Regions from separate parts of the Homo sapiens genome. Here regions 1, 2, 3 and 4 are each linked to region 5. Evidence: fine-mapped expression QTL. A gene starts in region 5. Each other region holds a variant in brackets. All regions are shown on one strand. Distances are between the middles of the regions. Region 1 overlaps RPS6KA2 (ribosomal protein S6 kinase A2). Region 2 has its middle 48 kb from the start of RPS6KA2-AS1. Region 3 holds the start of RAMACL (RNA guanine-7 methyltransferase activating subunit like). Region 4 overlaps RPS6KA2 (ribosomal protein S6 kinase A2). Region 5 holds the start of RPS6KA2 (ribosomal protein S6 kinase A2).

The links. PIP is the estimated chance that this variant, and not a neighbour inherited with it, causes the effect. A credible set is the group of variants that fine-mapping cannot tell apart.
Region 1: its variant is the best candidate, but not a certain one, in a credible set for the expression of RPS6KA2 in whole blood (TOPMed, PIP 0.77).
Region 2: its variant is the best candidate, but not a certain one, in a credible set for the expression of RPS6KA2 in whole blood (INTERVAL, PIP 0.79).
Region 3: its variant is the best candidate, but not a certain one, in a credible set for the expression of RPS6KA2 in blood mononuclear cells (TOPMed, PIP 0.72).
Region 4: its variant is the best candidate, but not a certain one, in a credible set for the expression of RPS6KA2 in monocytes after interferon gamma (Fairfax 2014, PIP 0.85).

The regions. Positions count from the first base shown.
Region 1 is chr6:166,578,314-166,584,551 of GRCh38, reverse strand. The region is part of intron 1 of RPS6KA2 (ribosomal protein S6 kinase A2); the gene reads left to right. RAMACL (RNA guanine-7 methyltransferase activating subunit like) reads left to right here. Exons shown (of 1, transcript NM_001395999.1): 1 at 1-1,543. Among named protein-coding and RNA genes, the nearest start is that of RAMACL, 5.2 kb to the left of the region's middle. RefSeq lists enhancers at 2,888-3,708, 3,789-4,289, 4,290-4,790. The variant A/G (reference allele first, on the strand shown) is at 2,882.
Region 2 is chr6:166,852,830-166,859,067 of GRCh38, reverse strand. It overlaps a transcript of RPS6KA2 not described here. Among named protein-coding and RNA genes, the nearest start is that of RPS6KA2-AS1, 48 kb to the left of the region's middle. RefSeq lists an enhancer at 4,967-5,945. The variant G/A (reference allele first, on the strand shown) is at 2,577.
Region 3 is chr6:166,586,322-166,592,543 of GRCh38, reverse strand. The region is part of intron 1 of RPS6KA2 (ribosomal protein S6 kinase A2); the gene reads left to right. It overlaps RAMACL (RNA guanine-7 methyltransferase activating subunit like), which reads left to right and starts at 5,866. Exons shown (of 1, transcript NM_001395999.1): 1 at 5,866-6,222. The coding sequence starts at 6,067. RefSeq lists enhancers at 3,086-3,345, 3,926-3,975 and a silencer at 5,524-5,663. The variant TG/G (reference allele first, on the strand shown) is at 4,308.
Region 4 is chr6:166,466,069-166,472,306 of GRCh38, reverse strand. RPS6KA2 (ribosomal protein S6 kinase A2) reads left to right here. Exons shown (of 21, transcript NM_021135.6): 11 at 2,402-2,466. Among named protein-coding and RNA genes, the nearest start is that of RPS6KA2-IT1, 3.8 kb to the right of the region's middle. RefSeq lists enhancers at 977-1,880, 1,881-2,784. The variant A/G (reference allele first, on the strand shown) is at 3,746.
Region 5 is chr6:166,624,881-166,628,880 of GRCh38, reverse strand. RPS6KA2 (ribosomal protein S6 kinase A2) reads left to right here and starts at 1,630. Exons shown (of 21, transcript NM_021135.6): 1 at 1,630-1,960. The coding sequence starts at 1,862. RefSeq lists silencers at 871-930, 1,181-1,350, 1,411-1,760.

The DNA of each region.
Region 1 (6,238 bases), 45 kb after region 5:
TGACATAACTGGCCTAATAGAGCTATAAAAAGTGTTGTAAGATGTAAATGTTGACATTTAGAGTGTCCCTGTCATCACTGAGTATGGTCATGCTGTTACTACAAATAAGGGATGGAATGTTAATGGACTCAATTGTATCCCTCCATGTTCACATTTGGAAGCTCCAACCCCCAGTGTGATTCTATGTGGAGAAAGGGCCTGTAAGGAAGTAATGAAGGTGAAGTGAGGTCCTAAGCCTGGGGCCCTGATTCGATGGGAGTAGTGTCCTCAGAGGAAGAGGAAGAGAGACCAGAGCTCTTGCTCCACCACGAAAGGGCGCTGCAAGAAGCAGCTGCCTGTGAGCCAGGAATTGGGCCCTCACCAGGACCAAATGGCTGGCACCTTGGTCTTGGACTTCCAGCTTCCAGAACTATGGGAAATAAATGTCTGTTTTGTAAGCCACCCAATCCATAGTACTTTGTTATGGCAGCTCAGGCAGACTAAGAAAGGAGCAAAACACACCAAGGCATTTTAAATTTATTAACCTTGTTTCGTTGCACACCTGGCCTACCAGAGCTATAAAATACATTTTAAGATGCGCCTTTTTGTTGACCCTTAGAGGGTCACTATCACTATGGGGTAAGGTGATGAAATTACTTGAGCTAAAGCAACTGTGTTGACTGTGTTTTGCTCTAACCTATGTTACCATTAGATAGAACCCATGGAAGTAAAATGCTGTAGAAAAACGTGAGAACCAGCCAGTTTGCACATTTCTTCCTGTGGCATAGTACTTCCTTTGGCGTGATGCCTCCTGGACTGAAACAAGCCAAGTGAGATACGTCTTCTGCCATCCAGAGGAGAAAGCCACAGTCTTGTGAGTCTTGTCTCTTTTGGCCATTGGCGCTTTAATAAGCACTCAGGAATTCAGTGGGCTTAGCTTCGGTTTTTAATGACAAACTGTCACGTGAAGACATTTATCAGGAGCGTCTCTCCTTTGTCACCTCTGGACAGTGGGTGGGGAACCCTGGTGTAGACATGACTTCCGCAGTGTTTCAGCACGGCCTGGCCAGAGCTCAGAGAAGGTGCGCAGGATGCTTAAGCTCTCCACCACCAGCTGCTTCTTCCCATTGGTTTTCGCCTCTGTGCTTTGAAGTTGCTCAACAATTTAATCACCAAGACTCACAGGAGGCAAAGTGGAGGGAGCCGTTTCCGCAGATCACAGCGACAGTGCTGTGGTTTGCCCCAAGAAGGCCGTGATCTCTGGTGCAAGTCCTACAGGGTGCAGAGTGCTAGACCCTAGGGTGAGCTGGACATCAGGGCCTTGGATGAGGCAGTGTGCTTTCTAAACAAGCAAGAATTCAGCACTTTTAGCTCACAAGTAGCAATTTGGTTGTTTCTAGGATCTAATTATGTGTAATATGATACCTTGAAAAGTATGCGAATGCGAGTAAAACTTACCAAACTGCTTTGTCTTTATTAGAATTGATATTGAAATAATTATCGTGTATATGCTTCAAGTCTGTTTATCCCAAGTGAATTATGAATAAAAGCAGTCAACGACCAAGTCAAGACAAAGTGAGTGAATTTTAAAGTAGGAGAAAATGTGGAAGGTAAAAAATATAGTGAGTTATTTTTCTTAAATCTTCAAATTATTATCCACATCAAGTTACCAAAAATATTTAAGTTTTAAAACCAACCTATTATACTGCTTTATTCCATAGCTTTTATTATTCAAGAGGTTTTTTTGTGTTTTGTTTTTTCTTCCTCTGCACATTGGATGCATAATAGCAATTCTTACATAAGAACCCCTAAAAGAAGTTCTTTCAAAGCGTTCTGGCTTTTTCAGTCAAGATGGAAATCATATCTAACCTCTTGAATAATGGAAATTTTATTACTGCCCATTTTTTGGCACTTTTTCTGTGGAGAAAATAAATGCCATTTCATTTTCCAAAATAAGATGTATGCATCTATGTTATGAATTTGATAAAAATTCATTGCATACTATAAAACTTGTGATTTATGAAAAATCTCTCAGAGCTCCATGCTACATTTCAGTTGTGGAATGTAATTTGTGATCGTAAAATGGCTGCATATTCATCTCCGCCCAACTAATGAGGTCATGGTGGTGAGCAGCTGTGAACAGTCAGCGTGATGGGTTAGTATATGGTCATTTAACACATGTTCACTCTCCCAAGAAGTTTGGTTTTGTTGAACACATTCATGGTCAAATGAAAAGGCTTTATTTCAAAAAGTGCATGCCACCGGAAGCCAGCTCAACAGTTCAGATCTCCATGGACGGCTCAGCGGCTTTCAGTGGCCACTGTGCTCACCCTCTCTGTGCCCTCCTGCTCACCCCACCTGCCCATGGGCATCTCACCCCATCTCACCTCTCCCTGTGCCCTCCTGCCCAGCCCACCTGCCCAGTGGGCGTCCCACCCCATCTCACCTCTCCCTGGGCCCTCCTGCCCAGCCCACCTGCCCAGTGGGCGTCCCACCCCATCTCATCTCTCCCTGGGCCCTCCTGCCCAGCCCACCTGCCCAGTGGACGTCCCACCCCATCTCACCTCTCCCTGTGCCCTCCTGCCCAGCCCACCTGCCCAGTGGGCGTCCCACCCTATCTCACCCTCTCCCTGTGCCCTCCTGCCCAGCCCACCTGCCCAGTGGGCATTCCACCCCATCCCGCCCTCTCCCCGTGCCCTCCTGCCCAGCCCACCTGCCGAGTGGGCGTCCCACCCCATCTCACCCTCTTCCTGTGCCCTCCTGCCCAGCCCACCTGCCCAGTGGGCATTCCACCCCATCCGGCCCTCTCCCCGTGCCCTCCTGCCCAGCGGGTGTTCCCTCCCCATCTCGCCCAGGGTGGGTCTTCATTTGAAGTGGTGATTTCCAAGGGCTTTCAAATCTA[A/G]ACTAGTCTGTTTCTGGGTATAATTCTCTGTCATTCAAATAGAAAGTGAATATAAGGAAAATGGACACAGCGAAATACCCACCCACTGCCCCGCATACTCGAAGCCGGCCTCTCGGTGGCCTCAACAGGCTGCCATGCCTGGTCCTTGGGTTTGTGGAAAATGCCGAACCCACCTGAGCACTTGGACATCAAGTCCCTCAGGACAGTGGAGCGTAGGAGAAGGAAGGGCTGAGCGGGGCGTCAGTTCCCTCCCTGAGAAGCAAAGCACTTTGACCTGCGCATCCAGGTGGGTGTAGAGAGGCCTAGGCCCCAGAAGGCGCTGGAGCCCAGGTGCTGTCGGCATTCTCCGCATAGGCCCTGAGGGGAAGGTTTTGTCATGAGAAAGGCTGATGCTGTCAAAAGCAGAGTGGATGTTTGAGTGGATTTTCACATAAAGAATCATAGACAATATGTATGTGCAATATTAAATTCCTCAGCCCTGGCCAGACACAGTGGCTCAAGCCTATAAACCCAGCCCTTTGGGAGGCCGAGGCGGGCAGATCATCTGAGGTCAGGAGTTCGAGACCAGCCTGGCAAAACCCCTATCTACTAAAAATTACAAAAATTAGCTGGGCGTGGTGGTGTGTCTGTAGTCCCAGCTACTTGGGAAGCTGAGGCAGGAGAATCGCTTGAACCTGGGAGGCAGAGGTTGCAGTGAGCCGAGATTGCGCCACTGCATTCCAGCCTGGGCAACAGAATGAGACTTCGTCTCAAAAAAAGAAAAGAAAAGAAAAGAAAAATTCCTCAGCCCTTTTTCTGTTCATTAGAAATCATTCCTGTGGGTTTTGTGTCTTTAACCACTTAAAGATTTAATGTCCTCCCTTTCCTCCGCCCCCTACGCATGAAAATCCAGTCCGTGTCCAATCGGGTCTGGTTCCCCCAGGGACACAAGGCACACTGGGCTCATTGGGACTTCTGGTCTCATCCGTCCTCACTGGGGACCCACTGAGGGGGTCAGGGGTTGGGGGTGGGGTAGACTGAAAATCAGGTCTTTTTGCTTAGTTTGATCACATACAATGACAGGCATGGACTGGGTACAATCCAGAGCAAGCTTGTCCAACCCGTGGCCCAGGGGCTTTGAATGTCGCCCAACACAAATTTGTAAACTTTCTTAAAACATTATGAGGTTTATGCACTCACCTTTCTTTTCTTAAAGCTCATCAGCTATCATGAGTGTTAGCGGATTTTATGTGTGGCCCAAGACAATGCTGCTTCTTCCAGGGTGGCCCAGGGAAGCCAAAAGACTGGACACCTCTGAAGTTTCCTTCAGACCTTTGGATATGCACGGGACTATGGCTGAAGTCAGGGTGTGTTGGCACAGTGGGTTTGAGGCTACGCTCCAGGCTTAGTGGACACCTGTTCTACCTTTGCCGGCCCTCAGGTCCCTGAGAGCCATCGGGTGACTGTGTCACTTGGGCCCTTTCCTCTCCAGCTTTTCACAGTGTGTCCTGTGTGAGTCAGCCTGAGACTGGAAGTTCAGTGGGCACATAAGGGAGGACCTCCCTGATCATTAGAACCAAGGGGCAGGCCCGGGGGCCCAAAGCCCACTGTGATGGGGGCAACAACTCCAGAACCTCCGGGCTGAGTCATAGAAAGACGGCCCTTTAAGCATGTTCAATGCTGAACTTGATGAAGTGCCGTGATTCTAAAGGTCGCAGTTAGGAAGGTGTTGTCACTATGCATTCCCTATTCTTTTTGGCTGGGATAACAGAGGAACTATCCTCAGATTATTTAGTTGTCTTTTTTTTCTTCTCAAAACAGTATGTGAGTTATTTGCATAATCATAAAAGAGGACTATTTAAGAGGTCCATTCTTTAGAGATAAAATTTCAATAATGTGATCTTTAGATCTTAGAAAAAGGAAAATGTAGAAAATGTCAAATCGTGAAATTTAGCGACATTAAATACCACAACACTGGTCTTCTTCTGCCAAAGGAGCGGTTGACACTTTTCACAGGCTGCTTCCTTCTTGTAACATGACACATGGCGTTTCCTAATGGCCTGAATCTTGAATACACCAGTTTCATGGTGACGTAGGATGTTCATCTTCTCCAAAAACAATTTTGTGCTTGGAAACATTTTTTATTTAACATTTTTCTCCAAATTTTGTTTAAATATAACCCACTTGTAACTAGCCAGTGTAACAATGTATCTTTAATAATTGCAGTAGAATTGCCACCACCGAAACCTCTGGAAGCATGACATTCTTGCATACATTTCTTCCTCCCCAGATGGCCTGTGGGCGACAGGCCAGCACCACTCCAGGAAGGGCCCGAGCAGCCAAGAATTCTGTAGCATTCTGTACAGAATGCAGGTCGCACCTGTTGGGCCCATCTCAACCTGGATTTTATTATAACTTCAAATTTTATAATAACATGACATTTTATCATAATGGCACTCAAAAAAAGCTGAATGCAGAAAATAGAATACAACTATAGATTGTTTTCTAAACAGCATAAACGGATACTTGTCTAAGATCACAAACCCCTTTGGCAGATACGGCCAGGCGGTGGCTCGGGGCTGTCTTGACTGACACGCCTTCTCATTCCGGCTTGTTTTTCATGATCCACTGATCCTCCGTTTTCCATGCTGCTCGACATCAGACTTACTGTTTCCTTCTAACCTGGGCCTTCTCACTAAATGTGAAATATAGAATGCAGAGGCTTTTTGGTCTCTCTGAGTGCAGTTGAGTCAAGGTGGGTTTTAAATGCAGAATCTCATAAACTGCGTTTCTAAGCTGTGACGTTCCTGTCCCTCACATATCTCTGCACAGATCCCATCAATATCCTGGGCCAATTGACACTTTTCTCTGTGTAGAAAATGCACGAGGCGCATGGTGGAAGACCTCGGAGCTGAGCCCAGACACTCTGATTGAGTAGGCCTGCTCCAGCACAGTGATCCTGGCACGGTGACTCCTGTGAGCAGCCCTGCTGGTCCAGACACTGCTGTCACCTGAGGATCAGGTTTACAAAACCTCGCTCTCTAGATTGGAGCATGCTGGCCAGGATTAGTTTTTAAGCCATCATTTGTTAAAGAAAGAGCTGTGTTATTGTCATCAGTAGTATCTGTGGGATGCTTGCTTTCTTCTGCATTATTTAACACTGTTAAACTTCACAGCCCTAAGGCCAAAGCACTCATCTCTGCTTTGCAAAAGTGAACAGCAAAGTGCCGGAGGGCTAAGGTGCTTGCCCCTGGTCACCCAGCTCCTACATAATGATGCCCGGACCCAAATCCCACCTGTTCACCTCCAGCATTGAGGCCTCTTAACTGCTCCTACTATCCCACTACTTCCTAGGGCCACCCAATTATAAGCTCAAGG
Region 2 (6,238 bases), 230 kb before region 5:
CATGGCAGCTGGTGCTGATGGCTGGCTGGTGTTCTTCCGTGGAGCTCTCCCGTGTCTGCTGCATGGCAGCCGGTGCTGATGGCTGGCTGGTGTTCTTCCGTGGAGCTCTCCCGTGTCTGCTGCATGGCAGCCGGTGCTGATGGCTGGCTGGTGTTCTTCCGTGGAGCTCTCCCCACATCTCTAGGCAGAAGCACTGCCATGTCTCCGAGGCCCAGGTTAAGCAGGTGGCTCCAAGTTGTTAAGTAGAAACCAAAGACTCAGACCCAGATGGTTCCACTTAAACCTTGTGCCAACCACAGAAACACTTGCTTTACGTTTTATGGGCTGGGCCTCATTTCTCTGCTAGAATCCATTCTCCCAGCACTCACTTGGGACTGTGATTTGGTTCCGTTCTCATGGGAGTGGTCACACATGCCTTCACCGCTGCTCTGTGCTTCCACATCAGCTCCGTTCGTATTTTAGCTTCATGAAAATCCACGCTTTCTCCACTGGCAAGAATCACCTTGTCGTCCTTTAGATTGTACCGTAAGTCACACTCGCTTCATTGATTTAGTCGTTTGAGTTAGGGTTTAGTGTGAACACTCCTTGCCTTACTTACCACCTGTTGTATAAAGGATCCATCTCGGACATGAAGCATCACACAGTTAAACATAAATTCAGGTGGGAAGGGACGGTGATATGGTTTCCATGTCCTACAGAAATCATGCGGGATATTTAGTTAGTACTTTTTCATATTGGTAACCTGTATGAGGCCACCTACAAACACATGGCAATGCTAACCATCTTTAACATCTATCTTTGTTATCAGACCACAGAGGAGGATCTCAACCTGGATGTGGAGCCCACCACAGAAGACACTGCAGAAGAAGTAACTATACACGTTTTATTACACTCTGCTTTGTTTGGGGAGATTGGGCCCAGAAGGTGGTGAAGGGGGAAATGGAAGTTTGAAATTAAATATCTGTGAGCAGTTATTTTAGTGACATATGTGTCTCTATACATACACATGCACAAACGTGTATATATGCATATGTACATATCATGTGCTTATTATATTCGGTAATCTCCCTCAAAAAGAATAGCTGGAGCATAGGACGGAAGGCTGTCCATCGAGGTAAAGTTCATGGTCTCCTGGCATGGGCACTTGTGAGGGTCATGGTGCATTAGTACCAGTCAAGGAGGCCTGGGAGTAACCAGCTGGCATGGAAGCCTGGTGTGGGGCTCCCTGTACTGGAAGTCATGTGACACAGCTGCTTAAAATGTCTGATGAGGTGCTCAGCAGAGCTGGGGAGAAGAGCGGATTCCATCCGTGGGGAGTTGCCTTTCCAGTGGACGGAGAGGAGTCCCAGGGCCTGTAGGGGTTGACTGGGAAAGAAGGAAAGAGAGACAGGGTATCAGCCCGAGGTGGTCATCAAACGGAAGAGAAGAAAGAGCTCTTGCTGCTGCAGGCTGTGCATTTCTTCATTTTCATGCTGTGCAGGAGCATGGGCCTGATCCAGGCAGCAGAAAACAGACTTAGACTTTAATAAAGTGAGAGTATCTCGGCAACACTGGTGTTCTCAGGGGAGATTTTGGTAACGATAAGTGTATCCATCAGGGAGACACTGGCCAGCAAAGAGGTAAATTGGAAGGCTGAGTTGAGGCTGTAGTCAAGGCATTGTAGTTACGCAGCCACACTTCCACCACTGGTAAAGCAAACGCTCTCAGAGGCAGCCGGAGCCGTGGGCCATTGACTTGGCCATTAAGAAGACTGAGTCGCTCAGCCACATGCCACCTGGAGCCAGAACAGTTAGAAAATTTGCAACTCTGTTGACTTTTAAAATAGCTGGCAGATATTGCAGACTGGAAGGGCTGGATCGATGAACATTACTGGTTTTAGAAAATGGTCTGCTCAGATGCTGAACGCTACGTTTCACTACCATCTAAACCTATGCACACCAATGCAACATTTAAGCCAAGTGTCGCTGGATCTTATGATCCGATGACATAGCCCACTGGTTAAATAAAGAAAAATGGCATTCAGCTGCCTTACGTTTATCCAGCTGCCTTTCGGTTCTGTGCATTTTCACTAATCTGGGAGTCTAGAGTCCAGCTCTCTTCTAGCTGCGCAGCGATCCAGCTGCGTTCTTGAACACTATGCTTGGCCTGGCCTTGTACCTTTGCATCCCCTGGAAAAGTAGATAGCGCTGCTTTTGCCAGTTCCATGATGATCAAAAGGTAGGCAGGCATGAGGCAGTGACTCTCCTGAAAATATGATGCTCAATCTGATACTTGCAAAGTGGTAGGGGTAGGAAAGGAAGATGTACCTTCCCAGCAAATTCATAAGGCCAAAGGTCTCAGAGAAATGACTGGCTGTCATTTTTCAGAATACTTGCCTAGGCTTTTGTAGGAACTGTGATTTCCAGGGAACTTTCAGTGTGTTTACTGCAGACAGACTTATGTGATGACTTAGTAGTTGGCTTCAGGAGGCTGACGACAAGGCCCTGAGCCAGGATGGGTGGAGCAGACTCTTCATTCTGCTAGGTTCAGTTGAAGCAACAAGATTCCATAACACCATGTCCTGCTGCATTCAGGCT[G/A]CCATAGCAGAATGCCACACTGGGAGGCTTCTACACAACAGAAAGATATTGCTCGCAGTTCTGGAGGCTGGGAAGTCCACAATTAAGGCATGGCAGGTTTGATGGCTGGTGAAGGCACACTTTCTGGTTCATGGCCAGCCGTCTTTACCCTTGTCCTCACGTGGTGGAAGGGGCAAGGGAGCTCTCTGGGGTCTGTTTGATAAGGACACTAATCCCATTCATGAGAAGTCCACCCTCAAGACCTAATCACCTCCCACAGTTCTCACCTCCTAACACCATCACCTTTATTGCTAGGATTTTAACATATGAGTTTTGGAGAAATACAAACATTTAGACCATAGCACATGTTATGCCCCAAAGTGCATGTATACAACTAACAGAAAATCCTTTAATTCATCAACAGTGTTTATTTTTTAAGAGCTCCTAGTCTCAAGTTGTCGTGTTCTCTACATTTTTGGTGGAAATCTAGATGTGAATCTATCATAGAATGTAATGAAAGTAACCAACCTCTTTAAAAGTTGTTTTTGATAACGGAATATCAGATGGAGGAAATTATTACTGTTTCCTGATGCTTACTGTATCTGGATAATAGAAAACCAGTATATCTTTGCATCTTAATAAATGAAGGAATAGAGTTCCAAACAGATTTTAGGAGTATTTTGCAGAACTATAATCTTGATATTTAGGTACATTTGCAGTATTTGTGGGAAGAATGAGAAAATACTGGAGAAAATTACTTGTTTACTTGATGTTTCTGATAGATGATGCTGAAAACCCAACATGGAGTTTTTTAGTCTAGCTGCAGATGAATGTCATTTGAATACTCTATGATGTTGTGTAACTTTTGTTAGAGACAGGCTTTCGACATCCTTCTTGGCCTCCAGAGGGGTTATTTGCAAGGTCTTCTCTAGGTTAGGGATTTATGGCTCAAATAAAAGAGCCATATTCTGAACCACAATCACAAAACCCTTCTTATTCTTCTTCTTCTTCCTCTTCTTCTTCCTCTTCTTCTTCTTCCTCTTCCTCTTCCTCTTCTTCTTCCTCTTCTTCTTCCTCTTCTTCCTCTTCTTCTTCCTCCTCCTCTTCCTCCTCCTCCTTCTCCTTTTTCTTCTTTTCCTTCTTCTTCATCTTCATCTTTGTCTTCTTCGTCTTCTTCGTCTTTTAATAGATTTAGGGAGTATAAATGCAGTTTCGTTATGTGGATATATTGTGTAGTCATGAATTCTGGACTTCTAGCATAGCCATTACCAGAACAGTGACCACAGAACCCAACATGTGATTTTTCATCCTCGCCCCCACTCCCACGCTCCCACCTTTTGTAGCCCAGTGTTTACTCTTCCCCCTCTATGTTCACGTGTGCTCATTCTTTAGTCCCACTTATAAGTGAGAACATGCGGCATTTCTGAGTTACTTCACTTAGGATAATGGCCTCCGGTTCCAACCACGTTGCTGCTAAAGGCATGATTTCATTCTTTTTTATGGCTGAATAGTATTCCATGATGTATCTGTATCACATTTTCTTGATTGAATTCTTCGATGTTGGACACTTATGTTGATTCCATGGCTATGCTATTGTGAATTGTACTGTGATAAACAGATAAGTGAAGGTGTCTTTTTTATATAATAATTTCTTTTTCTTAGGGTAGATACCTAGTAGTGGGATTATGGATCAAATGGTAGTTCTGTTTTTAGTTTTCTGAAAAGTTTTCATATGTCTTTTGTAGAGGTTGTGCTGATTTACATTCCCACCAACAGTGTATAAGCGTTCCCTTTCTCTGCATCCTTGCCAACATCTGTTGTTATTTTGAAAAAGAAAGAAATTTTGTGGCAACTAAACTGATAAACGTTTCATGCCTCTTGCCAGTCTGAACATATATGATAAAAAGTCATCTTATTTAGGAAAAAAATCATTCAAGTCAGCAGCAGTTTTCCCATTCATTTATTCAGCCAAGAATATTTATTGATAATCTGTAGGCCAGGCATTATGGTTCATGGAAAAGAATAAAAAGGTGAGCGAGGCTTGCCCTGGAGGAGCGCAGGAGGTGCTGTGATCACTCCAACTTGTGAGTACTTTCACTGATATGAGTTTCGTGGAGTAGACTTCTCACATAGTTTTTGAAGTGTAGAAGGCATTTGGGATAGCTCACATAGGATATCTAGGCATGTGATTCCTCACGTTACGGTTCTGTGCAGCTTCCAAGAAGGTGAGTTCTGGTGAAGGTCCCGTGTGAAGCTTGGGTGTAAGACAAGATGTCTGTTCTTGAGCTTGGGTGTTACTGCAATACACCTTTATTCACCATTGCTGAGGGAACGGCCTCCTCCCTCAAGAAGGCAGTAGTGATGTGGGGGAGTTTGTGTCATAAATTCACGGGATGGGTGGATTCTTGGTCTAATTTCATCTGACGCATCAGAGGCAGGCATCCTTCATATTCTGAACAACAACCACAAAACCCAGCAGATTCTGTCAGGCAATACGTCTTTAAGAGATTACTTGAAGGGGCTCAGTATAGCGACATCACAGTCGTGGAAGAAAAATCTAGAAGCAAAATGACTCCTGTGAGCAGGCGAGGCCCTGGCTCCCTGAGGCTCTGGCCTCTCCCCATCCTGCCTCTCTCCTGCAGGCCATGTGTACTGAGGCAAAGGAGCACCGGGGCTGAGAGCGCCTCCATGAGGCGACAGCTCCGTGCAGGAAACAAGCTCGTGGCTCCCCTGGGGACTGCCCTGCAGGCCTAACTGGGCGGACTTGTTGAGGGTCTAGAGGCAACCTGCTGTCTTGTTGCCTGGGAACCTGATCTGGATGTTGGGCCAAGTGTACTCAAACGAACCTCACAGCCACACTCGTGAGACTTAGGTGGCCACGATGCTGAGCATGGATCTTTGGTGGGATAGGACGTGGCGGCGGCTGCGCTCGGCCAGCCTCCTCTGAGCTGCTGTGCTGGGCGGTTGGGAGGGCTGAGGCTGTCCTGATGGAGGAGGAGAGCCAGCTTCAATGGCTTTGGGCCAGGAGAGGCCCCACCTGTCCACTTCCACGGCACAGAGGCGAAGTCTGTGCAGGGCCAGGCAGCCCCAGGCTCCCGGGTCTCTGTGCTGTTTTATCGTCTTTGTTCCCTACATGTTCTTAGATACATAGATGATTTTTAGGTGAGTTTTTATTTCACAGAACAGCCTTTGAAAAATATTAGAATTTGTTGCATGAATTTAATTAGTTTTTGTTTTGTAGACACAGGGTCTCACTATATTGCCTAGGCTGGTCTCGAGCCCCTGAACTCAAACGATCCTCTCGCCTTGGCCTCCCAAAGTGCTGTGACTACAGGCATAAGCCACCACACCTGCCCTGTTGCATGGATTTTTAAAGCGCTTAGATTTCAGGGTTATGTTTATTGATAACAATAGGACCATTTTCTTGTTAGGTCAACTTTATAAAACCAGATCCAGGTGTTATTGAAAATGTCAGCGTGATTCCACTTCATTTCCTTGTGGCTACGGGGGTACTTTCCCTTTCCTCTCAAATTTTACTCTGTTTTTCATAGCAGAATAGAAAGTATCCGGGCGAGGGGGCAGGGCAGGTGCATTTCCTGCTGTCACCATCAGTTGGCAGGACACAGCCACACGGGGATCACAGGGTTTCGGCTGCCAGATGACAGTCTCTTTGAGCCAAGGAG
Region 3 (6,222 bases), 37 kb after region 5:
CAGAATGGTCACCAACACTGACTCTGGGCTTCTGGGTTCACATTCCAGCTCCTCACTTATTAGTTATAAGAATAACTAGTAAGTTCTCACCTCCTAGTTCCCTTATGTAAAGTGAGATTCACAGATTCTGCCTAGCCCATAGATTGGGTGAATAAGTAGTCCCCTGTAAATCCAGAGGACAGGCCGGGCTTGTCAGCCCCTCACAGCACCACACCGGGGCCCTCTTCCCCGCAGGTGAGTTCCCTGGTTTTAATCTGAGGTGCACCCATCAGAAGCTCTCAGCAGGCCAGGACTCCACATAGAGCAGAGAATTCATTATCCTGTTGATTTCTCCATGACCCTCGCTACTATTTATAATATGTGACTCTCTAGTTCCCTCGAGAAGTCTTTCTCTTTCTGCTGGTATTTGGTGAAGTCACTTTCTCTACAAGCCAGGCCCATCTCTTGCCCACTTTTCAGGACTTCTGAGAACTTTCTGGTTCACTGCTGCGCCCTGGCTGGTGATTATTTTTTAAACAGAACGTCCATCATTTTCTCATTGTCTAAGCTCTGAGTGATTTCTGTATTGCAGATGCTTCTGTCTTCTGCAGGTACAGTGGGCCCAGCCAGTGCCATCAGTGTGGGCCGGCTTGGGTTTGGGGGCTGTTGTCCACAGCCTTCTGTCTTGTGGAACTCAGTGTGTAATACACACAGGCTTGAAGGTGGCCATGGTGGGTACACTGATGAGATTTTAGTAAAAACTAAATGCTGGGTTAGTTTTCTGGGGCTACTGTAAGAAACTACCTCGAACAGGTGGGATTAACCGACAGGAGTTTATGCTCTCACAGTCCTGGAGGGTGGATTTCCGAGACTATACCTGGGCAAGACCAAGCTCTCTCCAACGCCCTGGGAGGATCCTTCCTTGCCCCTTCTGGTTTCTGGTGGCCCCAGGCACTCCTTGGCTGCCTCCATCATCTCAGGGCCGCCTTCTTGGTGTGTGTCTGCTTTCCAGTGGCCTTTTTAGAAGTCATCTTGGATTAGGTGGTCATCCAGTCATCTTGGATTAGGGCCACTCGCCTCCTCTGTGATCTCGTTTTAACTAATCACATTTGCAGTGATCCTGTTTCCAAGTCAAGTCACATGTTTCCAAGTCAAGACATGCAACACGTCTTTTTTCAGGGGTGGGGGGCACACATCAAACCATGCCCATGCCGAGCGCCATTTGGACGGAAGCAGCCACACTGTGACTGGTCTAAAGGCATTCTGCTCATCCCAGAAGGCACTCCAGTGTGGCACTGTTGGTCGCGTTGAATGATGGTAACATCTTTCCGAGGTGCCCCCAGGGCCTCCCGTGGAGGGTGTGTTTGCTGAGTCCTTGCACGCTGGCCTTTTCCATCACCTGCATCTATGAAGAGTGCCTGGGCGACTGTGAAATGCCTGGGCTGCAACCTTTTTGTACCTGATGCTCAGTGAACATTGCTCTCTGGCATCTTCTGGCATTTAATATGTAGAAGAGAATTCTAAAGTCAGACCGAGACAACCTGTTTTTCTGCTTTTGTGATGCTTGTAATTAAATAATGCTCAGATTTGACTCTTCATTGACTGTGACATGGCAGGCAGATCCATTTTACTTGCAAAGGTTTGTGTGGGTTGGTTTTAATCTGTTTTTAAATCCAGCAAGGCCTTACTCTAAGTCGTGTCTTTGATGATCTCTTCCGTTCCCTTATTTATGCTCTTTGCCTGGGGCCATCACTTATCCGTTAGTGTTGATTATACTCACTGCCTCAATGAGGTTTTTTTTTTAATTTTTTAAAATGAGTTTTATTGTGTATGTTTAAGGTATACATGATGCAACGGGAAATGAGTAGAGATAGTAAGAAGGTTACTGCAGGAAAGCCCATTAACATAGACGTGCTTTCAGTTATGCACGTGCGTGTGTGTGTTGTGGGGCAAGAGCAGCAGCAATCAACTCATTCCACACGAATCCCCTGTATAGTACAGTGCAACGACCTGAAGTCCTCAATGAGGATTTCAATTGTGCTGCTGCATGTCTGGATTCTTCTGGGGCAGGCTGATGGCATGGTTCTCACCCTAAGTCATGCTCCTCGCCAGGCTCCATCTTTAGGTGTGCCCAGCCCTGAAATAGGATCTGTCTCCTCCTAAAGCAGAGTCTGACACGGAGTTCACACTGGGAATCTGTGAACTTAATCTTACGTGGATGCTGTATCTGCCAGACCCTAATGACTGATTCTTATCAGCGTTTAGTAGGTTCTTGCTCCTCAAAGCCTACTGATGTAGGAACTAGTAATTTACTGTTCTGATTCTATTTCCCACTATGTCCAAGTTTTAAGCAAAAAGTATAAGCAAAACAACAAAAGAAGCAAAACCAGAAGGCTGCTCTAATCAAATAGATTTAGTCTTTATCATCCCGATGATGCTTGCCAATTCCAGCCCCTGTGTCTTTGCTTGAGCTGTTTTATTTCACCTTGAATGCCCTCTCCACAGCACCGTCTGTATTCCCCCCAGTTCCCTTGCCTCCTCCTCTGAGCACCCCAATCAAGCTGCCCAGGGGCCCTTCTTCCTCTGGCCCTTCCTGTTCTTGTTTTCTGTGTATCTCACTTGCATGCCTGTGGCCTCATTTGTTGGGTTGGTGGGTATGATCTTGTCTCCCGGTAAGATCCCAAGTCTCTCTCCATTCTGTTCATGCCACAGTTTAGTTTATGTTGTATATCAAATCTAGGAGTTAGAAATTTTGAAAATGTTTCCAACAAATCTGATTTGTTTGGGCCAAAGCACTGGGTGAGAGTCTTCTGTAAGACTGATAGACCACGCTCTGTTTTTCATGCAGAGATGCTGGAGACACAGGTGATGTGCGCCCATTTCTACCAACAGTCTCTATTGGAGCTGATAGTAAAAGCTGAAAGTTCAATTTCCCAGTTTCCCTTTAGGCTCTTATTTTCTGCGACTTAATGAGGGTAAAATACCTAAGGGTAGAATGACATTGTTTATGCAGCCTTCCATGAAGCATGACTGATTTCAACTGATTTCAATTCTAAGGGTACAGTCCCTCCTGTCGGGCATAGAAGATACTCTGACCATGGAGGCTGGGTGTCTTTGGCCGATGAATTGAGCTGGGTTATTTTTCAATTCCAGTGTGGATATGTAATGGCAATAATTTAGAACAAGTGCTCACAAAAGTGCATACTTAGTGCTGCAGATTAATACTTCCCATCCTTTTTCTTTCTTTATGTGAAAATGAGCAAAGGAACCCCAGGAGGGGCCCTGGAATGCACCGTGGTTTCCTGTTGAGCTGTTGAGCAGACGCTTTCTCCACACTGGCTGTGAAACATAAATTCACTTTTGGCTTTTGCTGGTGGTAGGAGGAGACTGGCCCCATAGCCATCATTTTTATTTCAATCTGACCACCTGTTTCCAGAAAGCCTGGGGCTCTTTTATAAAAGACTTAAATTTTGAAAGAGTAGTGGCAACCCCAATGTTACTAATTTCAGCTCTGACTCATCAAGGGCTTAGAGCTTCTTCCTCCTTTTCTGCGGGGGCACTCCCTTGCCACCCACCTCCTAGATGCCCTTAACCACCCACTCCTCCTCCCCCCAATTTGGAAGTCAGCCCTGAGAAAGCGACAGTGTTCCTTTTCCATCTACTTGCTGGAACACAGGTAGTCGCACCTGGCCACCTATGCATGGCCTCTGCTGGCCGGGTTGACAGTGAGCACGGAGGGCCATTGGCTGCCGCACCCTGTCTGTCATGTGCGACTGCCCAGCTGGACTCTCTTCGGGCCCTGAGCTTCCGGGAACCCTGTGTCCATCATCAGGGCAGAGTAGCAGCCCCAGGTTACAGGGCAGCAATAAAGCCCACATTCTGGAGTTGAGATCAGACGATCTAGTTCCACCTTTGATTGTTTTTCTGTACAAATAGGAATTATGTACATGCAAGGCTACAAATTAGATGGCAAAATCAGCCAGAGCGAGAGGTTGGGGACAGGCAGAATTTCCCCAGATTCTGGTGTCTCAGCGACGTGCTGCAAGTTCCCAGCGCAGGGTCCCTGTGGAAAGGAGGCAGCAAAGGGATGTCGTGTGCCCAAGAGGAGTCCCCTAAGACCCCCAGTTCAGGTGCATGATGCTCTGTGTGGCTAGGGCCTGTGGAATCCAGTTCAGCCACCCCTCATTTTTTCTGCAGAAAGCCACCCCTGCAGCAACTCGCTGGCCCCACCTGGAAATTATAATTTAGGCCTGTGAGCAGCTGCACACACTCATAGGCTGTTTCTTTGCAGAGATTTGATTCTGCTGTCCACCTGCTGAATGTGAAGC[TG/G]ACTTTGTGGAGGTCCTTGTTCCTCTTTTTAAACCACACTCAGGGAGCAGTGGAGGGTGAGGGCCCTGGGATGGAGCTGAGCTCCTGCCTTGTTTACTTCAGACCCCAGCACAGTGTGTACATTGGGGAGCAAAACGAAGGTCCCCTGTTTCTTGGAAAGAAGTTCACTTTTAGTTCATGATACGAGAATTCTCTAACCATCACTGGGGTCTCAATTTTCATTCATTTTATGCTGCATATTTTGCATTCAGATGTGATAAGCCAAACAGATAAAAAACAAAATAAATTCACTGTTGTGGCTGGAACCTGAGTGAGTGAGGAGGGCGCAGGGTCTCACTCTCACCTCCTCGGGGTTCTTCCCCACAGGGCAGAGAGCGCACAGTCCCGGAAAGTCCTGCCATGAATGACAGCAGCCAGCAGGAAGTCAGACTCTACCCACTGTGCTAGTGAGGCCAGACGGCTAGTTTCAGCGCCTTCAGCTGTGGCTTTTCAGAGACGTGGGCCCTTCATCTTCTACTTCTGAATCCACTTATATATTTTACATTTTTGTGTGTGTATATATATATATAATATTTATTTTATGCTGGTTTGCTTTTTTTTTTCCAATGGCAGACTTCAAAAAGGGCAGACTCGTTCAAGAAAGATGTTATATCACTGCATGAGATATTCAGGAAGAACTAAAGTGTTATTTTTGAGAACCCACTCTATGCCAGGTACTGTTCTGGGAGTTTTACATGCGTGGGTTCATTTATTTCTCACAACCACTAATCCAGGTAGGACCCCCTCATTCTACATAGGAGGGAACTGAGGCCAAGGACGGGTGAGGAGCTTGTCTGATGCCACACAATTAGAGTGACGGTGATTAGAACTGATTTTGATGGTACATTTCTCTTGTACTTATGAAAAGCAGATACGAATCTCTAGTCTGTGCTTATCTCATCTTTCTTGCCTCCCTCTGTCCCATGCCAGTGTCCAACCAAGCCTTTCTTGGGCCTGTAGGGCTCTGACCCAGGGTCTCTGGACTGTGCACTCTTGTGTTTCAGGAAAATATTTCCCTGAGTTCATAAAAGAAAAATTATTTCTTCCTTATGTGTTAGTCTAATGTCAGGGTTCCTGATGACTGGCCACTTTGCTTCCACATGGGGATTTGGGGGACCCAGGCTTCTTCTTTGTAGCTCCACCAGCCCTAAGGGCCTGCAGTTAGCTGTGGGGGGAAAGAGACTATGAAAGAAGCACCTGCTTCTTTAAGGTACACCATCCAGACACACTCCATTGGCCAGGGCTAGTCACATGACCACACCTGCCTGCAAGGAGGGCTGGGTAATGTAGTCCCCACTGGGAGGCAGCTGAGGGGAGCCCCAGTCTATGGCAGGAGCAGAGATTTCTGAAAGCTGTTGGCTCCCTCTGCCCTGGAGGTAATGCTGAAATTTGACTTTGTGTATAACTGATGTGTGTTACCTTTGTCATGTCTTCAGAATAAACTGTGGTCATTCTTTTTCTTTCCTCCTCTGGTATATATATGGACTAGTTCATGGGCCTTATTAAAAGACTTGTTTGGAGAGGAAGGCGCTCGGTTACATTGGAGAACTGGAGTGGTCTGGAGTTCCACGGTGTAGTGGACCAGAGGCCACCTCTCCTGGGCTTCTCAGTGTCTCGCCGGCGGGGTTCGGCCTGAGCTGGATAGACATAGCCCTTGGCGGATTTAAACAACCTAAACATTAAGCAATACAGCTGCCTCAAACCTTTGGGATTTTCAGAATGACTGACACTGCCGAAGCTGTTCCAAATTTTGAAGAGATGTTTGCTAGTAGATTCACAGAAAATGACAAGGAGTATCAGGAATACCTGAAACGCCCTCCTGAGTCTCCTCCAATTGTTGAGGAATGGAATAGCAGAGCTGGTGGGAACCAAAGA
Region 4 (6,238 bases), 160 kb after region 5:
TGCAAATGATGAACAAGAAGGAAATACAGTGGGTACAAAATGTGAAATAGATCCTCCAAAGAAGTACAGCCAACAAGTTGCCACACCTGTGCGTGTACCAGGGCCTCTGAACTGTTTGTTCCAATCTCCAGCCTTTTGAGAGTGCCTCTGGCCATGCGTCCAACAGTCACCAAACAAAAGAGTAGAGGAGAGGCACACTTCAGAGGAGGGTCTTTCTGTTAATCATCGTGACCAGAAGGACTCTTCAACCCAGAGTTCTGGTCATCATCAAAGGAGGCCTGCACACAGGATGGGCGCTTGGGGAGGGCTGTTTGGAAGTCAGACTGTCGCTCTGGAAATTTCATTACAGCAGCCACTGGTGCGCCTGCGAAGGCTCATGCCAGCTGCTGCGATTGCAAAGGCCTGGGATCAGATCCCTGGGCTCAGGGTTTAGAGGAGAACAAGGGAGCTAGACTGGGGACCCGGAGGGGCCTCAGCAGGGAGTCCTCGGGAAAGACACTTCAGAAGGTGGGGCACCTCAGCTGCTTTTCAGACATGTGCCTCCAAACCCAGTACCTGTAACTCATAACCTCTGGTCTGATTTTGAACAAGCTACCCAACCTGTGTCAGCCTCAGTGTCCTCGTCTGTAAAATGGGAACAGCAATTGTGCATCGGATGACTGAGATGTCCGTGTGCTATGTCTGTCCTATGATTCTGCGTCCTCATGGAAGGAGAAACTCCTGAATGTGTGCCCTTCCTCTAATTCCTTCTAGATGGACTTTCACGTCAAAGTGTGAATAACACAAAGCTGAGAGTGCTGTGAGAGTGCCTTCAGGGGCATTTAGTATGTGGGTTCGTTCCTAGCACCATGGCCCTGGCCAAGCTTCCAGGGTAAGGGGACTGTCTCTGAGCCGTTGACCACCTAGAGGCGCTTTCTGAGGCCACCACAGCCCCCGAGCCTCCTCCACATCACTGCCCAGAGTGCGGAATGGAGGGGTGGGAGGGGTCAGGACACGGGCAGTTCCAGCCAACGATGGCACCATCTGCTGTGACTCCCGGTGACCTGCGCCACTCCAGGCCAGCTTCCAGCCGGACAGGCCGGGCCACACCTGTGCTGACCACAGCATCCCCGGGCAGCCCCGCTCTTCCAGGAGTGAGAGCTGGACATGAGGGGGGCTCCACGAAGGGGCATACATGGCACAGGAGGCTCTGATTTGGAGCACAGCCGTTAGGAGTTGGCAGCGGAAAGGAACACAGCTTGCAGAACAGGGGAGCCGGGCCCCAGGGATCAGACCCTCCCCAGCCCTGGGCCCGGAGCTGGCAGGAATTCCCCAGCCACCGCCGCCACTGCCCCTTCCAGCCAAGCCCGCCTCTTCTCGGATTCGTGACCCGGGAGGATGGGCTCCTCTGTGGCCGTCCCATCCTGGAGAAAACACAGAGTCCTAGAGCTTTAGGGCCTTTTGTTTTTAATTAATAGACTTTGTGTTCAGAACAGTTTTAAGTTTACAGAAAAACTGAACAGAAACTGCAGCAAGATTCCACGGCCCCTCACTCCCTGCCCCACCGCTTTCCCGAACAGTAGTGCCTCCGTGAATGGGCACGCTTCTGCAGTCGGTGAGCTGAGCTACTGACTAAAGGCCTTGTCCACACTGGGCTCGTTCTGGGGGGACAGTGGCGATTTCTGGCAGATGAGTGGACATGTATCCACCGTTAGGGAATCATGCTGCCTGAAAGGGCCCCCAGCGCTCCGCCTACTCCTCCCTCCTTCCTTTCTGCCCCAGGGCCTTAGGATTGTACGCAACAAAGTAAGGGAGGAGGTTAGGTAGAAATAACAGAACAAAGCAGAGATATTTGTAAGCAGCCTCCAGGTAAACACAGTCACCTGTCTGAGCAGGCTCAGGGGTGGCCAGGTGTGGGCAGGAGGCTGGGCTCTGGCTTCCTCCGGGACTCAGTCCTGTCAACTCCTCTTCATTTCCTGGAATCCTTCCCTCCCGGGTTAACTGCAGCAGCTTTGCCAGGAACTCTGCTCTGCACCTTCCCCTCCGGCCTCCTGGGAGGTCCACCTGGTGCTCACACTCACAGGCACCTCAAGCTCCTGGGGGTGACAGTGGGGTGCTAGGCAGCCGTCACATGCAGCAGGCAGCACCTGGCTGGCCTGTCCCATGCTTCTCTTGACCACCTCTTTTGCTCACTCCAACCCCAGGCCACCTCTGCCTCACAAGCCCTCGGGGCTGAGTCGTGGCTTTCTGAGCTGGGGGCATCGGCAGGTGCGCAGGTGCCTTGGGCAGGAGTGAGCAGCCTCTGGGCTCCTTCCCACGGCCCCACCTCTGCACATCCCCACCCTCCACACTGCTGCATTGGAAACTGTCAGAGAACCCCATCTTGGATTTGTTCTGATGATCATTTCTGTGTTGTTGACAGGTGCTGGCATTGACGGAGTGGAGGAAATTAAGCGCCATCCCTTCTTTGTGACCATAGACTGGAACGTAAGTTGCATGCCACAGTCCCCACCTGCACACGCGTGACACAGAAGTGGGTGGAGGGAACATACGGCTTGGTGCAGAGGGTCCTCAGTGTCCGGGTCACAAGTAGGTCGGAGGTGAATGTAGACAAGCCACCTGCAGGCAGGGAGCCCCCAGGACCCTGCTGAGCGGGCTGGCAACTTGGGAGGCACAGACACGTGAGTGCCCCTCCCTCCAGCTTGAGGCCTGAAGTCCCCTCAGCTTTCCTCCTTCTACTCTCCTCTGCCCATCAGAGTCGAGGCTTCTGTCCTCCCTGCACCCACTCCCCGGCCTCTCCGAGCCCTGCATATTCCCGATTGCTCCAGGAGTGACTGTCTTCTAACCTCAAGGGCTGAACAGACAAAAGTCATGACAAGCTGCTCAACCAGGACCCTTTAGTGCTAGGGCTATGGGCAGGCCCAGATTCGATACTGCATTTTCCATCGTTAGTCAAGCTGATGCCCACGTGGAAGTCACATTTAAAAAAAAAAAAAAAAAACAACAGTGCCGAGTTGTTGGAATAAACTGGAGCTTCTGTTAGTGGAGTTATTGGTAAAGCCTCCATTTCCAGTTCTCTGGGCCAGGCTGGACATTGTCTGAGAAGTTCTCGTATCTCACTTTTCACCAAGCTACAAGTGTCAATTGCCTATTTCTGCCAAGACGCCAACTCCGAATGGTGAAGCAGTCAGCGTCTGACGCGTCCCCCACACAGGGAGTTCTCGCGGCTAAAACTCGGAGGCTGTTCCTTCCATCTGAGGAAGGCGATACCTCCTTTCCTATCAGTTGCTTTCAGCTCTTTCCTTTAGGTTAACACAAAAACAGCTATGTTGGGATTTTCTTTTCCTGACCTAACAAATTAACCTCAAAAGATTTTAATGGAACACTTTTTAAGATTTAAATGCCCTCTACAGTATAGAGTTTATTATCTGCTTTCGCTTTCCTCTCTGTCTTCTTTTTTTTTTTTTTTTTAGTCTCGCTCTGTCGCCCAGGCTGGAGTGCAGTGGCGCGATCTCGGCTCACTGCAAGCTCCACCTGCCAGATTCACGCCATTCTCCTGCCTCAGCCTCCCGAATAGCTGGGATTACAGGCGCCCCCACCACGCCCGGCTAATTTTTTTTATATTTTTAGTAGAGACAGGGTTTCACCGTGTTAGCCAGGATGATCTCGATCTCCTGACCTCATGATCCACCCACCTTGGCCTCCCAAAGTGCTGGGATTACAGGCGTGAGCCACCGCGCCCGGCCTCTGTCTTCTTTATGTCCTC[A/G]TGGAGTCCGGGGCCTCCACGCATTTCATTAAGAGGTGGGCCCCACCTGCAGCCCCAGACCTCTCCTCTGGGAATGTGTAACACCAGTGCTGGATAAAACCAGCCAGCTCTCCTCTTCCTTCAGCCTGAGCCCCAGCAAAGCACTCAAACTGGGGAAGAGTGATAACTTTTTAAAACCTAGTTTTACAGTTCTGACTAAAGAACTTTCGTAAGATTAGACTTCTTTTCGAAAGTAAGATTAGAGAAAAGAGTGTAAAGTTTCAGGACATCTGTGCCTCCCAACCAGGACCTCCAAGAAATGAAAACCAAGGCCTCCCTTTGGAGTCTCTTACTTAGCTTCCCTGAAAATTTAGGCTTATCAGAAGCTCAGGCTGTGCTCACCTCACAGATGGGCACCTAAGGTCACTGTCATTCGACTCTGCGTTGGAATGTATTTTCTATGGAGACTTCACCTTACACGGCGTTTAGATCTCAGGCAAGCCTGTTTCATGAAGAATGGACCTGGGTGTCAGCCTGTGGATGGTTAGCACAGCACTGTGCCTGGAACCCAGATGCCTGCCCCTCAGGGGGTCACAGCATGTTGCATCCCCTCCCCTGCCTGCCAGTGGTTAAGGTGGGACCACACAGCTTCTCCCCGTATGATCTGCTTCTCCATTTATCCAGCCCTTTCTGCTGGGCGTCCCAGTCTCAGGCACTTTCCAGGGCTGGGGATAGAGCCGTAGATGGAACAAAGTCCTGCACCCGTGGGTCTTGTGATGACTTGGCAGAGAAAGGCGGTGGACAGATGGGTCTGCACATGTCACAGGAGGACACTGTGCTGACAAGGAGGATGCAGCAGGGGACAGATGGAGAAGCACACGAAAGTGGTCAGGACAGCCACACCTCACCCCTCCCATCCTCACGGAGCCTCCTTCCCATGCCTCCATGGAACAGGTTCCCCCCAAGCACTGGCTCCAGCTGGTCTGGCTTCCAGGGCCCCTCCTGCCCAAGTCTCCCAAGGGCTCACTGGTCTCCTCCTTCCAGTCTGCCATTCAGTGTCATCTTATGAGACCTGTCCTGCGGCTCTTCCAAACTGCAGCTCCTCTCCCAGCACCCCAGCCCCCGGCCTTGCTCTGTTTTCATATCCCTTATCACTTTCTGACTCGCCTCAAAATACCATGTGTTTCTGATGTATATTATTATTTTCTGTCTCCTGCCACTAGAATGTAAGCTGCAAGATCAGGAATCTGTGGCTTAGAGGTGTATCCCACAGCTCTAAAACAGGGCCTGGCTCAAAGGAGGCACTTTATGAATCCCTACTGAGTGAGTGAATGGATGAGTGAGGGAAGGAGGGAGTGAATGAGTGAGGGAGTGAATGAATGAGTGAGTGAGTGAATGAGTAAGGGAGTGAGTGAGTGAGTTAATGAGTGAGTGAATGAATGAGTTAATGAGTGAGGGAGTGAGTGAATGAGGGAGTGAGTTAGAGAGTGAATGAGTGAGGGAGTGAGTGAATGAGTCAGTGAGTCAATGAGTGAGTGAATGAGTGAGGAAGTGAATGAATGAGTGAATGAATGAGTAAAGGAGTGAGTGAGTTAATGAGTGAGGGAGTGCATGAATGAGTAAGGGAGTGAGTTAATGAGTGAGTCAACAAGTGAGGGAGTGAGTGAAGGAATGAGTGAATGAGGGAGTGAGTGAATGAGTGAGTGAGTGAATGAGTAAGGGAGTCAGTGAGTGAGTTAGTGAATGAGTGAGTGAGGGAGTGAGTGAATGAGGGAGTGAGTGAACGAGCAAATGAATAAGTGAATGAGTCAGTGAATCAGTGAATAAGTGAGTGAATGAGTCAGTAAGTCAGTGAATGAATCAGTGAATGAATGAGTGAGACTCTCAAGACAGGAGTCACAGCTGTCGAGGGAGACTTGCCCCCTCCATTTCCTCACTCTCACACTCTAGTCCTTCCTCCAGAGACCATGCCTGGGAGAATGGAGAACCAGGATTGCTGGGCTGGGAGGGGGAGCTGCAGGTGGGCAGGGCAGCATCCTGGGATGGGAGACCCTGAGGGCTGCAGCTGGTAGGAAAGAGAAGTCTCTTCACACCGAACCCCCAGGTGACACAGTGCAACACAGAGCACTCAGCCAAGAGTGGAGCCACTCCAAAGTATGCATGGCCCAGAAGGGCTTACGCACTTGCTAAGACAACCTTGTGAGATGCCTGGAATTTTAACAATACGATGGATTTGGAAAACTATGACACATTAGATTAATGTGCATTCCAGAATGCTGAGGTCCGGCGAGCTCTGAGCAGAAGCCGCCTTTTTCCTGTGGCAATAAGAGCCTTCTCTACACAGCGCCTCTGCTCAGGGTGCTCTGGTCTCCCTGTGGCTGGAAAGCAAACACAACCCAAGAAGGTGGCATTTCTGCGTGATTTCAAAGGAATCAGACTAGAATCAGAGCTGAGAAGTTCCTTTTGTTGCTCTTAGCACTTAATTTGATTTTATTTTGGCCTTGTTTTCGTTTT
Region 5 (4,000 bases):
TCATTATAGATCCTTTAATACATAATATGAAAATCAATTGCACTATTTAAATTCACAAAGCACTCCCACATCCGTGATCTTGCATAAGCCTCTTGGTATCCAGTAAGGGAGGTGAGACAGGTTTCACTCGTATTTTCCTCTTAGAGATGAGTCGTGGGAACAACGTGCAACGGCACCCAAGTTCACCAAGCAAGGAAGGGGCAGCGCCAGAGTCGTGGTGCTAAACTCCCGGCTTCCACTCCGGAGCAGCACCGCTCAACGCGGGTCTCCAGGAAACCCAGAGAGCCTATCTGACCTCACCTCAGCCCGGATGCAGCATGACTTTAAAGCTCTTATTTAAGGACATTCTGACCTCTCTACCCACCTTAGCCAAAATAGACTACACAAGTATTAACGCAACATCTGACTAGTCCAGGGAGCAAAACAACGCGAGGATTTTGCAGTTCGCACTGCAAAAGAGCAAGCAAGACTTGTCAACTCACCACCGCACTCGTTTCTGCTCTTTGCAGGTGGTGATGGTGCTATGTCAATGGGCTCGGTTTCTCCCTGTTTTTAAATACAAACTCAACACGTGCACAAGAGGAAAACAGAGCAGGCTGCACGGGGTCGTGAGCCCGCATTCTCGGCCCTGCTGCAGCCCTTGGTGAGCATTTCTAGGAAAAAAAAGAAAAAAGTGTTTCCCTTTAAGGCGGATCCCGAGCGGCGCTGCCGCCAGCAGCGGGTCTGAGGGCCTTGCCCTAGACCCAGGTCACCCCGCCCGGGTATTCCCAGCGCGGGCCCTGATAAGCCATCTGTGTAGACGTTTCCTAGAGCGGGACCGGCTGCGGAGGGCGGATGCGTCTTTGTTCTGCAGCCGCGGGAGGGAGGCGCCCCGAGGGCTGCCTGAGCCCCCGCCCTCGGGCGCCTTTGTCCGCTCCGGCGGAGGGAAGGCGCCGGTTCCGCGGAGGGCGGCTCCTGGCCGAGCTGCAGGGCCCGCTGGCAGGCGGCGGTCCCTCGCTCGCTGTGCCGCTGAGGTTTTGGCTGCGTTTGCTGATCAACAATTAAAGTTTGGTTCGGCAGAGAAAAACATGATGACAAAGTGTGCATAGGGATGTTTTAAGGAAGGAAAACATAATGACGGCCCCAAGCTGGAAGAAAGAGCAGCCGGGCCGAAGTTGCGTGACAGGAACGCCCGCGACTGCGCGGCTCCGGAGCAGCTGCACAACTCGCCCGGGCCGGGAGCTGTCCCGGGCCGAGGCTCATTAGGTATGCGGCGGCTGCGGGCACTGATTGGCGGGCAGTGCTGTGGGCGGGGCCGTGGGCGGAACCGCGTGGGGGCGGGGCTGCACGGAGCTGGTTCTTGTAGGAAGGAGTAGAAAGAGGAGGAGGGATGGGCACCTGGAACCACAGGGCGGCGCTGATGATTGGAGGTATCGGCAGAGGCGGGGCTCTCCCGGGCGGGGCGGTGGGCTCTCATTGGCAGTGCTGGTGGTGGGTGGGAACGGGAGGGGTGGTGAGCGCTGATTGGCCGTAGTGGCGGGGCGGGGCGGAGGAGGAGGAGGTGTGCGTGCCGGGGCGCGGAGCGGCGGGCGCTGATTGGTGGTAGTGGTGGTGGGCGTGGTGTAGGCGTGGCGCGTGGCCGGCGCTGGTACTCGCAGGGGAGGCGGAGAAGGAGGCGGAGGGAGCGATTGTGGCCCCGGCCGCGGTGGCCGGCGCGGCCTGCCCTTTGTGACCGCAGCTCGCGCCCCACGCCCCGCGCCCATGGCCGCCGTGCCGGGCTCCCTGGCCACGCGTGCCCGCCCGCGGACCTGAGCCCCGCGCCTGGGATGCCGGGGATGCGCGTCCCCCGGCCCTGCGGCTGCTCCGGGCTGGGCGCGGGGCGATGGACCTGAGCATGAAGAAGTTCGCCGTGCGCAGGTTCTTCTCTGTGTACCTGCGCAGGAAGTCGCGCTCCAAGAGCTCCAGCCTGAGCCGGCTCGAGGTAATGCGGCCGCCCTCGGGGCGCGCAGGTGCCGGGCACTGAGCGGGCCGTGGTCGCCCGAGCCCGCCTCGCCACCCCTGGGTGGACCCCGAGACCCGTCAGGGAGTTCAAGTTACTGGAAAGCTGGTCCGGTTCCGAAAATCGAACCAAACGGCTCCAAACGTTATCGCTGGGACTCCGTAGTAATTGGGCGGTCCGTGGGTCCTCGCGGGGGCAACTCCACCCCCACTGCATTTCCAGCTGGTTTCTCCGCCGCTGGCTGCACGGGGTGTGGGATGGTCCCCTGTGGGCCACAGGGAGCCCCGGGTGAGGAGGGGCTTTCTCTGCAGCTAGACCGCCGAGTGGCGCGGAGCGCTCCGCGGGGGTCCCTCAAAGTCCCGAGTGGAGAAGCCCCCCAGCTCCGCCCTCCGAGGCGCTGATCAGGTGCTGTCTGCCGTGCCCGGCCGGCAGGTTCCACCTTATCTTGTAGCTCATTCGTGCACTTGAAGTCAGTGTAGAATTCACAGAACGGGGAAGAACAGGCAGCAGCACAATCTGCTTAGGCGTCTAAAACGGCGTTCAGGAGTAAAGAGCCTGATGCAATATCCTCGCAGCGCCGAGGCTGATACAGATTCGTCCTGAAAACCCAGAGTACTCCCAAAGCCCTGTCCTTTCTACCTGTCCCGCATCTTGGCATCTTAGAGTTTCCTTGTGGACGGTTCTCTCGTGGTGTGTTTTATTTCAACCATCAAATCTTATTCTCTTATTCCCAGTGTCCAAATCACATTGTTGAATCTATAGATGACAAAACAGTGAAACGTGTTTAAGTGAAAAAGACATGGTGATGGGGAGACTGAGGCTGGGACCCAAAGATTTCGCCTGACACTGTCCCGCCTTTGCCTCAAGGCTGGCACCTGTGGGGTTTTGGTTGGTTTGTTTCAGCTGGAACAATCTCAAATGTTTCATCTTGGTTTTCTTTGTCCCAGCTGCCATGATATTAGACACAGACATGGGTTCTGTAACCATTGAGAGACCTGAGGAATAGACAAAAAAGTAGAAGAGAATTACTTGTTTAAAAAGTTTCTCTTATGGCATCCCTAAATCAGAATTGGAAGTACTAGATAGGATCAGTATGGCCGGTTCCCGAGGGTAAAACACATCTTTCAAACAAAACTGTTAATCCAGTACTGGAGGAGGGCTTGCTTTTAAGTCTAATATTGAAAGAAATGAAGCACACCAGTGAGGCAAATCATTTTCCTGGGACACAGGCACTTAAAAAATCTGAAGTTGACAAGATCAGAAACTCAGAACAGTATTTATCTTTATCCGGATACATGTCTTTGTTTCCTGTTTCATCTCAATGCCAAGTTTATTAGACAACTCCTTGTCTCCTTCCATTTACTGTCTTTGCCAAGAAGAGGTACACGTGTGAGCACACTCCAGGCATTGTTTATGAAGAGCAGCACTAGACACTGGCTGACCAGTGGGAGTTCAGGAATCTGCCTGATTCTGGATACACACGCCTCTGGTGTCACAGGGTTCTGCAAGGAGGGCTGGGCTGCAGGCGTGCCTCCGGAAAGAATACAGTGGGAAACAAGCGGGGGGGGGGGTGGGGGGGTGGTGGGAATAGGAAACGAGGTTTCTTCCATGTAGAAATAAAATTTCTAGAAGTCATACATAAACCATCAGCGATGTAGGAGGTCAAATGGGCTGAAAATACATGTAGTCTAAGAGCAAGTAGTCAATTAGTGCTTCCTGTGTGCCAGATCCCGTACTAGGTGCTGGAGGTCTCACTAAGATGGTCAATAATGGCCGGGCGCAGTGGCTCATGCCTGTAATGCCAGCCCTTTGGGAGCCTAAGGCGGGCGGATTATGAGGTCAGGAGATCGAGACCATTCTGGCCAACATGGAGAAACCCCATCTCTACTAAATATACAAAAATTAGCTGGGCATGGTGGCGCGTGCCTGTAATCCCAGCTGCTCAGGAGGCTGAGGCAGGAGAATCGCTTGAACCAGGGAGTCAGAGGTTGCAGTGAGCCGAGATTGCGCCACTGCACTCCA